2 separate regions of the Homo sapiens genome follow, and region 2 is reported to be linked to region 1. Evidence: microRNA targets listed by miRTarBase, many of them from high-throughput screens and not tested one by one. Region 1 holds a microRNA gene; the other region holds the end of a gene's coding sequence.
What was found. Region 1 holds the annotated microRNA hsa-miR-1973 (ACCGUGCAAAGGUAGCAUA, at 3,413-3,431, shown strand). A microRNA usually pairs through its seed, bases 2 to 8, with sites in the 3' UTR of a target mRNA and lowers its output. Matches are read on the target gene's strand: a 7mer-m8 pairs with bases 2 to 8, a 7mer-A1 pairs with bases 2 to 7 and ends in A, and an 8mer does both.

Region 2: miRTarBase lists MTFR1L as a target of hsa-miR-1973. Seed matches in the 3' UTR shown: 7mer-A1 at 3,796-3,802.

What each region holds. Positions count from the first base shown.
Region 1 is chr4:116,296,338-116,301,751 of GRCh38, forward strand. MIR1973 (microRNA 1973) reads left to right here and starts at 3,388; the gene lies at 3,388-3,431. LOC105377383 (a long non-coding RNA gene) reads right to left here and starts at 841. Exons shown (of 2, transcript XR_939096.3): 1 at 622-841. It also overlaps the pseudogene MTRNR2L13.
Region 2 is chr1:25,831,094-25,836,283 of GRCh38, reverse strand. MTFR1L (mitochondrial fission regulator 1 like) reads right to left here. Exons shown (of 7, transcript NM_001099625.2): 7 at 3,346-4,363. The coding sequence ends at 4,258. AUNIP (aurora kinase A and ninein interacting protein) reads left to right here. Exons shown (of 3, transcript NM_024037.3): 3 at 438-2,278. The coding sequence ends at 1,291. Among named protein-coding and RNA genes, the nearest start is that of MTFR1L, 14 kb to the right of the region's middle.

The DNA.
Region 1 (5,414 bases):
TAGTATTCTTCTACAGTGAGAAGACAATTTCATTGCACATCATGTTACGTTTATTCCTGTGTATGTTGTTTCCTCTATCTACTGATATTTACAGAATTCTTAGGTTTTTTTTTAATATTAACACCTCCTAAATTATGATCTTCCACAAGCATAGTCCACATGCATAGAAGCACATATTAATAACTTCTTAATCAACTATCACACATCTACTATTGACTGTACAATAAAATCTAACCCACGTGGATATTGACCCATACTGTAAATCACAGTGCATACATTCGTTCATCGGACATAGCACATTTCAGTCAAGAAATCCCTCGTCAACATGTATATCCCCTATCAAATTTTGCTCTCTTAATCTACCAACCACTGAGAAATCATCATCCCTCTCAGGAGTGGCACCCTCCTGGTTCCAGGCCCATGACACTTGGGGGTGACTATACTGAAACCATACCTGGCATCTGGTTCTTACTTCAGGGCCATAGAATTAAGATCGCCCACACGTTCCCCTTAAATAAGACATTTCCATGGACTAATGACTACCACCCTATTAACCAGTCACAGGAGCACTGTCATGTCATGCATTTGGTACTTTTAACTTTGGGGGATGCTATCACTCACCTGGTCCCTGCCGAATCCGCAGTAGAGGAACTCGGATTTGATTCCTGCCAAATCAATTGTAGAAGCTAACCTTATATTCATATTCCAGGCTGGCATTATAACCAGAAGGTGTTACTTAATTCATGCTTGAAGGACATAACAATTAATAGACACGCAAGCCTGTACCGACGCTCACGCCCGTACCGACGCTCACGCCCGTACCGACGCTCACGCCCGTACCGACGCTCACGCCCGTACCGACGCTCACGCCCGTACCGACGCTCACGCCCGTACCGACGCTCACGCCCGTCGCATGCACTCTGAATTTCAAGAACTATTTCCGATTAAATCTGCAATACCCCCTCCCCGCATCTCTGACTTTACTATCAACCTAGCTAAATGTATCCTTGCCAAACCCCAAAAACAAAAGACTAAAATGCAGCCCAGTCAGAGCCCAGAAATCATATTTTAACCATGAACGCCTCAACAGCTACCCCTCGATTGATGTAATTTTTCTAAAAAATCTTAACACCCTCCTACTAAATTAATCCTCCACTTTGTATAATAAATATAATAACTAAATTTCTGCCCTAATACTAATATAATACCTTGAGCATATCCCCCGAAAGCATTGCCCCATATATCATCTCCTAAATCAATCATACTCTTGATTATGAGTGATCTTCTTAGCCAAACCTCTGCCAATTCAACTTTAAAGACCCTGAATTTCCAGAACTGTAAACGACTATTTTTATTTATTTATTTATTTCTCATATTTTAATATTTACACTTAAGAATTTATGCAGTTAATGTAGCTTAATTATTCAAAGCAAGACACTGAAAATGTCTAGATGGATCCGCACAACCCTATAAACAGAGAGGTTTGGTCCTGGCCTTTTTACTAGCTCTTAGTAAGATTACACATGTAAGCATCCCTGCCCCAGTGAAAATGCCCTCTAGGTCACCCGGATCAAAAGGAGCAGGTATCAAGCAAGCATGAATACAGCTCAAAACAACTTTGCTCAACCACACCCCCATGGGAAACGGCAGTGATAAATCTTTAGTAATAAACGAAAGTTTAACTAAGCTATACTAATATTTAGGATAGGTCAATTTCGTGCCAGTCACCGCGACCATATGATTAACCCGAGCTGACAGAACTCAGCGTAAAGAGTGTTTAATTAAGGTCTACCCTCAATAAAGCTAAACTCCAATTGAGTTGTAAAAAACTACAGCTGAAATAAAATATACTACGAAAGTGGCTTTAATACCCTGAAGACACAATAGCTAAAACCCAAACTGGGATTAGATACCCCACTATGCTTAGCCCTAAACTCTAATAGTTACATTGAGAAAACCATTCGCCAGAGTACTACAAGCAACAGCTTAAAACTCAAAGGACTTGGCGGTGCTTTATATCCCTCTAGAGGAGCCTGTTCTATAATTGATAAACCCCGATACAACCGCCTTGCCACCTCTTGCCCGCAGCCTATATACTGCCATCTTCAGCAAACCCTAAAAAAGTTACAGAGTAAGCACAAGTACACATATAAAAACATTAGGTCAAGGTACAGCCTATGAGGTGGCAAGAAATGGGCTACATTTTCTATATCCGGCAAATCTCACAACAACCTTTATGAAATCTAAGGGCTCAAGGAGGATTTAGTAGTAAACCAAGCGCAGAGTGCTTGGTTGAATAAGGCCATGAAGCATGCACACACCGCTCATCACCCTCCTCAAATATTACTCTAGAAATCACTATTACTAAAAACTTTCTATGCACATACAGAGGAGATAAGTTGTAACATGGTAAGCGTACTGGAAAGGGCGCTTGGACAAACCAAAGTGTAGCTTAACCCAAAGCATCCGGCTTACACCTGGAAGATTTCATCATGATCTGTTCACTTTGAGCCAACGCTAGCCCCAAACCTCGCTAAAAATATTATCAAACTATCTTAATCAAACCATTTACATTAAACGAAAGTATAGGTGATAGAAATTTTTACCCTGGTGTAGTAGACATAGTACCGTAAAAGAAAGGTGAAAGAACTATATAAAGCACTAAAAAGCAAAGACAAGCTCTTATACCTTCCGCATAATGTATTAACTAGAAGTAACTTTACACAGAGGATTATAGCCAAGTCCCCCAAAACCAGATGAGCTACCCAAGAACAACTGAAGAGTACACCCATCTATGTGGCAAAATAGTTGGGAGATTCATGACTAGCGGTGACAAGCCTACCAAGCCTGGTGATAGTTGGTTGTCCAACGTGGAATCTTAGTTCAACTTTAAACTTACCCACAGAATTATTTACTCTCCCTGTAAATTTAGCTGTTAGTCTAAGAGGGACAGCTCTGTAGACCCTAGGAAACGACGTTCCTACAGAGAGTAAAAAATACTACCACCATAGTTGGCCCAAACGCAGCCACCAATTAAGAAAGCATTTAAAGCTCAACATCTAACTATCTTCAATTCTAATCACTCTACTGAACTCCTAACATCATACTGGACTAATCAATTACTTAATAGAACCAATAATGTTAATATAAACATTCTCCATTGCATACGTTTACATCAGACTGGAATAACCCACTGACAGTTAACAACCTAATATTAATAAATGATATAATAAGCACCCTATTATTTACACTGTTAACCCAACTAAGGTATGCTCTAAGGAAAGATTGCAAAAAGTAAGAGGAACATGACAAATCTTACCCCACCTGTTTACCAAAAACATCACCTCTAGCATTACCAGTTTTAGAGTCACTGCCTGCCCGGTGACATATGTTCAACGGCCATGGTATCCTGACCGTGCAAAGGTAGCATAATCGCTTGTTCCCTAAATAGGGACTTGTATGAATGGACACACAAGGGTTCAGCTGTCTCTTACTTTTAATCAGTGAAATTGACCTATCTGTGAAGAGGCGGATATAAACAAATGAGACTAGAAAACCCTATGGAGCTTTAATTCATTAATGCAAATAAAAACCCAAACAAGTCTAGAGGCCCTGGCCTACTATCCCTGCATTAAAAATTTTGGTTGGGGTGAGCTCGGAGCATAGTTCAACCTCCGAACAACCTAAACTAAGACTGCAGTAGTCTAAGCGAGTTAGTACACATTGACCAAATAATTCAATCAACGGAATAAATTACCCTACGGATAAAAGTATTGACAATAGGGTTTACAACCTCGATGTTGGATGAGGACATCCTAATGGTGTAGCCGCTATTAAGGGTTCGTTTGTTTAACGGTTAAAGTTCTATGTGATCTGAGTTCAGACCTGAGTAATCCAGGTCAGTTTCTATCTATATAACATTTATCTTAGTATGAAAGGACAAGAGAAATAGGGCCCACTTCATAAAGTGCCCTCACTCCATATAGTCTTCCATGCAAAGAAAAATTCATATATTGTCAAAACCACTAAGATTACTAAAAAGTATTTTTCTCAATGTAGACATATGTATCAGAAAAACAGAAAAATGTTTACAGATAACATATAAGCAACAAAAATCTAGAAAACTAATCTTATTTATCATATATATATTTCTATATATACATGTAAGGTAGTTTACATCATGTAAATTACCCTTATTTCAAATTTACATGTACCATGTACATGTACAATACCCTGAAAGAGACTGTCATTAATGCTGGTCATGCCACAGCTGTATCATTTCAATGACCAGAAGCTTGCCTGGTCATCATGGAAGTAGTACACTTTTCATGACTTTATGTTATTTCAACTGTTGTTTTATCTCTATGTTTCTGTATGACATGTCTAGAATGGTACATATGCTCCTAGGGTATGATGTATTTTAAATCAAAACATTTATATAAAATCAATTTTAATTTAGATTTGAATAGTTTTCTGTTATCTATGACTTGTAGTTATACATGATTTTTTTCTCCCACATTACCCTTGCTATTGAGACTCTCATATTCGATCAATTGTATCAGCACCATTTAGTCCTTCCCCACTCTGGAGGTGCAGATTTTAAATATATGCTCAATTATTACATAACTAATAAAATTCATGGTATCATGTGTACCAATTTTTGCAAAAAGACATTTTGAAAGTAAGTCTATCATTCAAAAGTCATTGAAAACACATTTTAATGTCTAATTATGATAAAAAAATTCACACTTGCATTTGTTTTGAGAAATGAATCTGTTATTGTCAGCAATTTAATATGGCATACTGCAAGAAAGTTACTGCTTTCTGACAACATAAAAATTCATAGCTCTCATAAAGAAATGAGTCTGAAACATGGGAAATTTCCCATGCTAAGCATTTAACTTACAACATAGTCATAAAATTAATAATTATATTCCAATGAAGACAATGGCAAGCTTTTTAAGCTTGAATGTTGTTAAAAAGGACTATATTGGACAAATTACCATATAAACACTAGAGAATTCTAATATAGACCTGACAAAAATGGACCTTTATTATAATATAGACTATAATTTATTACCTAATATTTTTAAGGCAAATTGCTTTTGAAGTTTCCCAGTTCAGAACATTCACATGATTCACTAGAAATGCTTAAGTACATACAGAACTTGCCTTTATCCTTAAACTGGGCCAATAATTTCCTCATCATCAAGTGTGTTTGCTTGTGGAACAATGAATGTTACAGGGAGTCCAGTTGATAACACCTGCCCATTCAAGTCTTTGCTTATGAAAGAACAGGCATTTTCTTCACTCTTCCTAGTCTCTTTACCTTTACACTCATCATACAAGTCAGTTTAGTATACTCGTTGATTTTCTTTTCATTTTTTTTCTATTCTTATTCTATTATCTGGATT
Region 2 (5,190 bases), not on the chromosome of region 1:
TGTGTTTAGCATGTTTCTTTAAGGATAATGTCTAGGAATGTATATTTGACCAGGATCACCATTTAGTAAAAAACCACATTAAATAAAAAACAAAAGCAAAACTGATGTGCCGTATGTTAAACAAACCTACAAATGAAAACTCAGCTGGTAAAGTAGGCTATGGTCTGATCGTATGCGATGTTTGACTTTATTAGGTAGGTGATGGGAAGTATCCATGTATTTGAGTAGGGAATATAAGATCTGATGTTTTAGAGTTTATTCATGATAGACTGGCAAGATTGAAAACAGGAAGATTGGCTACAAAGTTATGTGAAGAGTCTTAAGACTCCTGCACTAGGTAGTAATAGTAGCTGATACTGATTTCAGAAAAAGCCAACTGAATCCTGCTTAGGGCAGTTTTTCTGCAGAATAATATTTGTTCATTCCTGTTTTATTAGGAAAGACAAATGGCAGTGACCAGAAGAGTGTTTCATCTCATACAGAAAGTCAGATCAACAAAGAGTCCAAGAAAAATGCGACCCAGCTAGACCATTTGATCCCAGGCTTAGCACACGATTGCATGGCATCCCCTTTAGCCACTTCAACCACTGCAGACATCCAGGAAGCTGGACTCTCTCCTCAGTCCCTCCAGACTTCTGGCCACCACAGAATGAAAACCCCATTTTCAACTGAGCTATCTTTGCTCCAGCCTGATACTCCAGACTGTGCTGGAGATAGTCATACCCCACTGGCTTTTTCCTTCACCGAGGACTTGGAAAGTTCTTGTTTGCTAGACCGAAAGGAAGAAAAAGGGGATTCTGCCAGGAAATGGGAATGGCTTCATGAGTCTAAGAAGAACTATCAGAGTATGGAGAAACACACCAAACTACCTGGGGACAAATGCTGTCAGCCCTTAGGCAAGACTAAATTGGAAAGAAAGGTGTCTGCCAAAGAAAACAGGCAGGCCCCTGTCCTCCTTCAAACATACAGGGAATCCTGGAATGGAGAAAACATAGAATCAGTGAAACAAAGCCGTAGTCCAGTTTCTGTGTTTTCCTGGGACAATGAAAAGAATGACAAGGACTCCTGGAGTCAACTTTTCACTGAAGATTCTCAAGGCCAGCGGGTCATTGCCCACAACACTAGAGCTCCTTTTCAAGATGTAACCAATAACTGGAATTGGGACTTAGGGCCGTTTCCTAACAGTCCTTGGGCTCAGTGCCAGGAGGATGGGCCAACTCAAAATCTGAAGCCTGATTTGCTCTTTACCCAGGACTCTGAAGGTAATCAAGTTATCAGACACCAATTCTAAATGTTTGAAGCTTTGTTTCTAAAAGTACCTTGAAATGATAGAGATGTAGGAAAATATAGTTGTGGGTGGAGAGAGGAGTGAGTTTGTTTAGGTGGGAAGGTGGCATGGGATGAAGTTGTCATTACTGAGCATCTTCTCTGTGTAAATAAAGGGCAGTACCATTGTTAAGACAGTGGGATTGGCATCATGGCTTTCCCTCAGGAAGGTGGTGGCTGGTAAATTCCCTGAATGAGTCTATGATGAACACTGAGGCAGCACAGTGGGTATTTATCTCTATGAAAGTGCCTTTTACTCAGCCTGCACAGAGCCATCTCTTTGCCCTTCCAGATGTCTGACTGGGACCTTGCTTATGGATGTGTTTTTTTTTTTTTTTTTTTGAGATGGAGTCTCGCTCTGTTGCCAGGCTGGAGTGCAGTGGTGCGACCTCAGCTCACTGCACCCTCTGTCTCCCGGATTCAAGCGATTCTCCTGCCTCAGCCTCCCGAATAGCAGGGACTACAGGCATGCGCCACCACGCCCAGCTAATTTTTTTTGGATTTTTAGTAGAGACGAGGTTTCACCATATTAGCCAGGATGGTCTCCATCTCCTGACCTCCTGATCCGCCCACCTCAGCCTCCCAAAGTGCTGAGATTACAGGCATAAGCCACCGCGCCCAGCCAGATGTGTGAGCTTTTAATCTCTGGCTGATCTTAACCCACATCAGCCTAAGCTTGGGATGATTACTCTTGACCCTTTTTTTTCAGTGATTAGCAAATCTCCCCACAACCCAGGTGTGGAGAGAAGAGAGGTAGAATGGTGCTAGTTTCCTATTTTATTTTTGTGGTAACTGTACAGCACTTTAAAGTTATATACTCTATGTTTAAATATCTCCCTTAAAAAGCCTGAGCTGTACAACAATCTGGATGTGACTCTGTTACCCTTTTCCCACAAGATAGGAGGGAATCCCCTTTGTAAAACTATGAATCCAAATAAATGTTTACAAAGTGGCTCTTGTGATAATTGGTAATTAAACCATTACCAATTTTATTTTTGAAAAGGCAACACTGTAATAGTATATGCTGTCATTGCCCTGAGCCTGATCTGAACCAGAGTCTAGTTTGACCTGTCTTCTACCCAAGGCATTATTCCTTGTTGTTGATGTGGTATCTAAGAGGCTTAAACAACCTCTAAGGGACAAACTTGCAAGGTTATAAGAGAACTGCTTCTTTTTTTTTTTTTAACTTAAATTTTATTTTTTTGAGACACGGTCTCGCTCTCTTGCCCAGGCTGGAGTGTGGTGGCATGAACACGGTTCACTGCAGCCTGGACCTCCTGGGCGCAAGTGATTCTCCCACCTCAGCCTCCCGAGTAGCTGAACTATAGGCACATGCCACCATGCCCAGCTAATTATTTTTAAAATATTTTGTAGAGATGAGGTCTTGCTTTGTTGCCCAGGCTGATCTTGAACTCCCAAAGTGCTGTGATTAGAGGTGTGAGCCACTGTGCCTGGCCTAATTTAAATGTTAAATTCTACTTTTATCGTGTATGTCATCTCTCCAGTCATTTTCCTGGAAGACCTGCTTTTAAGAATGTATGGGGCTTAGTGCGGTGGCTCATGTCTGTAATCTCAACGCTCTGGGAGGCTGAGGTGGGAGGTTTGCTTGAGACCAGGAGTTTAAGACCAGCCTGGGCAACATAGCAAGACCCCATCGCTACAAAAAAATTTAAAAATTTCCTGGGTGTGGTGGTGCATACCTGTAGTCCCAGCTACTCAGGAGGCTAAGGTGGGAGGCTCACTTGAGCCCAGGAGTTTGGAGGCTGCAGTTAGCTAATGATCCCACCACTGCACTCCGGCATGACAGAGCTAGATACTGTTTCTAAAAAAAAGAAAAAGAGTATAGGGCAAAATCTCTACAGAAAGGGGGAAGAAACCCCCTAGAAGGGCAGGACCTTATAAGGAAAGAGGAGAAGCCAGTAGCCTGTTTAAGTTCATACACCTTAAAATTAACAATAATCCTATGCCCCTGAAGGATACTGGGTAATCGCAACTCAAGAGATGGACACAGCAAATGCATTCTCTCTCCAAGTCCTTCCTTTAATGTCAGGTAGTGCTTCAACCCAAACACAAGCAGTATACATACCATAGAGAAAGGGACCTGAGGGCATCTGAGTCATGCATGGTGTGGTACATACAAACCTTGGCCCAGCCCAAAGGAGCAGTCAAGGGCCTGGAAGAAAGATGGTTTGCTCTTTCCCCCTCCTCCTCTCTCTTTCCTACCGGGCTTAAAGTCCGTGGAAGAGAAAGTTTTTAATCAGTGGAACTGATAAGGCCTCAGGGCCGTGGAGGGTAGATTTGGTTGTTCAGTAATATAAAATGTGTTTAAGAAAAAAAACAGCCCAGGCTTCCCAGCAGTAGCCCATGTGTTGGCTGGTTCAGCAGCCTGACCTCTACATCTAGACAAGGAAGTGAGGAGGGTGATTGCTGGGCATTGGTGTAGGTTTATGACGGAGCAGCATAAGATTTTCCGTGCCCTGTGAACATGTATACAAACATTCATAGCCCCTTCCCCTCAGCCCTGCTCTGCTGCAAGGAAGCTGCTGAGTGAGTGACAGCTGGGCACAAAGTGTCTTGTGAGACCAGCTATAGGGTCTAATGCAGTGAAGTCAGTCATTTAGGACCTATTTTCACACAGGGGCAAGGAAAAACCAGAAACAACTTCTCTCTTACCCTTTAAACTAAGATACTTCATTCTACACGATTACCTGAAACAAATGTCTCAGGTCAAATCACAAGCCTTAGCTTCTGCTAGGGTTTGAAGTCTGGGAAATATATAATCCAGCTCTTCTCTTTCAGTCCAAGCTCTAGCTTGTCAGCAAGACTGTTGCAGAAGATCTATCCTTAAGAGGCAGAAACATCTGCGGTGAGGAAGGCAGCTATTGAAGGTATTCCAGGAGCATGAGACTGAGTTTGCAGAGCTGAGGGTTGTCAATTTCCTTTTCTACTGATATCTTCTTCCTTTAGAGCAAACTTCCTCCTTAGGACCTCAGAGATAAGCACAGCAGGGTCTTCCTCCTTCAATAAACTCCGGTTCCTAGAGACACAATAATAGCTTGAGTACTTACTCTTTCCTGTGTAGTGCTGTATATCTTTTGAATACATTATCTCGTTGAATCCTCACAACAATCTTACGAGGTAGGTGCCATTACAATTCCCTTTCACAGATAAGGAAATTGAAGCACAGAAAGGTTATACAAGTTGCCCAAGGTCACTAGTCACTCAGCAAGTAAGCGGTGAATCCAGAGTTCAGAACCAAACTAGCTGGTTCCAGATCTCATCTATTAACTAGAATGCTTTACTATTTCCTGAAATAGCTATAAAGTATGGGCAAAGTAAAGGACCATCAGTCTGTTAGAGTTGGCCTCTGGTGGCTAAGCTTCTGCCTTCTGGCCCTGTTTTCTTAGTAGCATTTCCCCAGAGGGTCAGCAGGGGAAGTGACTGATGACTCTTGGCTATTCTGACCCTTGATAGTTCTGGAGAAAAGGTGTGCTTGGGATTTCCTACCACCGGGTCTCCCCTTCAGGGGAGATGATTTTTTATGAGAGCCAGAATTAGAGCAAAACATTCACATAAGAAACTCATGGGAACAAAACCAACTCCAGACTGAAGTAGGCCCAAGTTATCTGATACATCATATAAGAGGGTCCTAGATACCTGGAAAATAGTTGCTTGAAATCCTAGTGAACTTATATACATTCATCATGAAGGTGTTTTACTGGTGATTAAGCTAAATATAAGAGCCAAGACTGACTATTCAACCTTCAAAGCAAAAACAAGAGGGACTGCGTTTGGTTGGTGACATATCTGAACCTTTGCTGACTGGGGTACTTTCCCATTCTTATTCACTGACCCAGCTCCTTC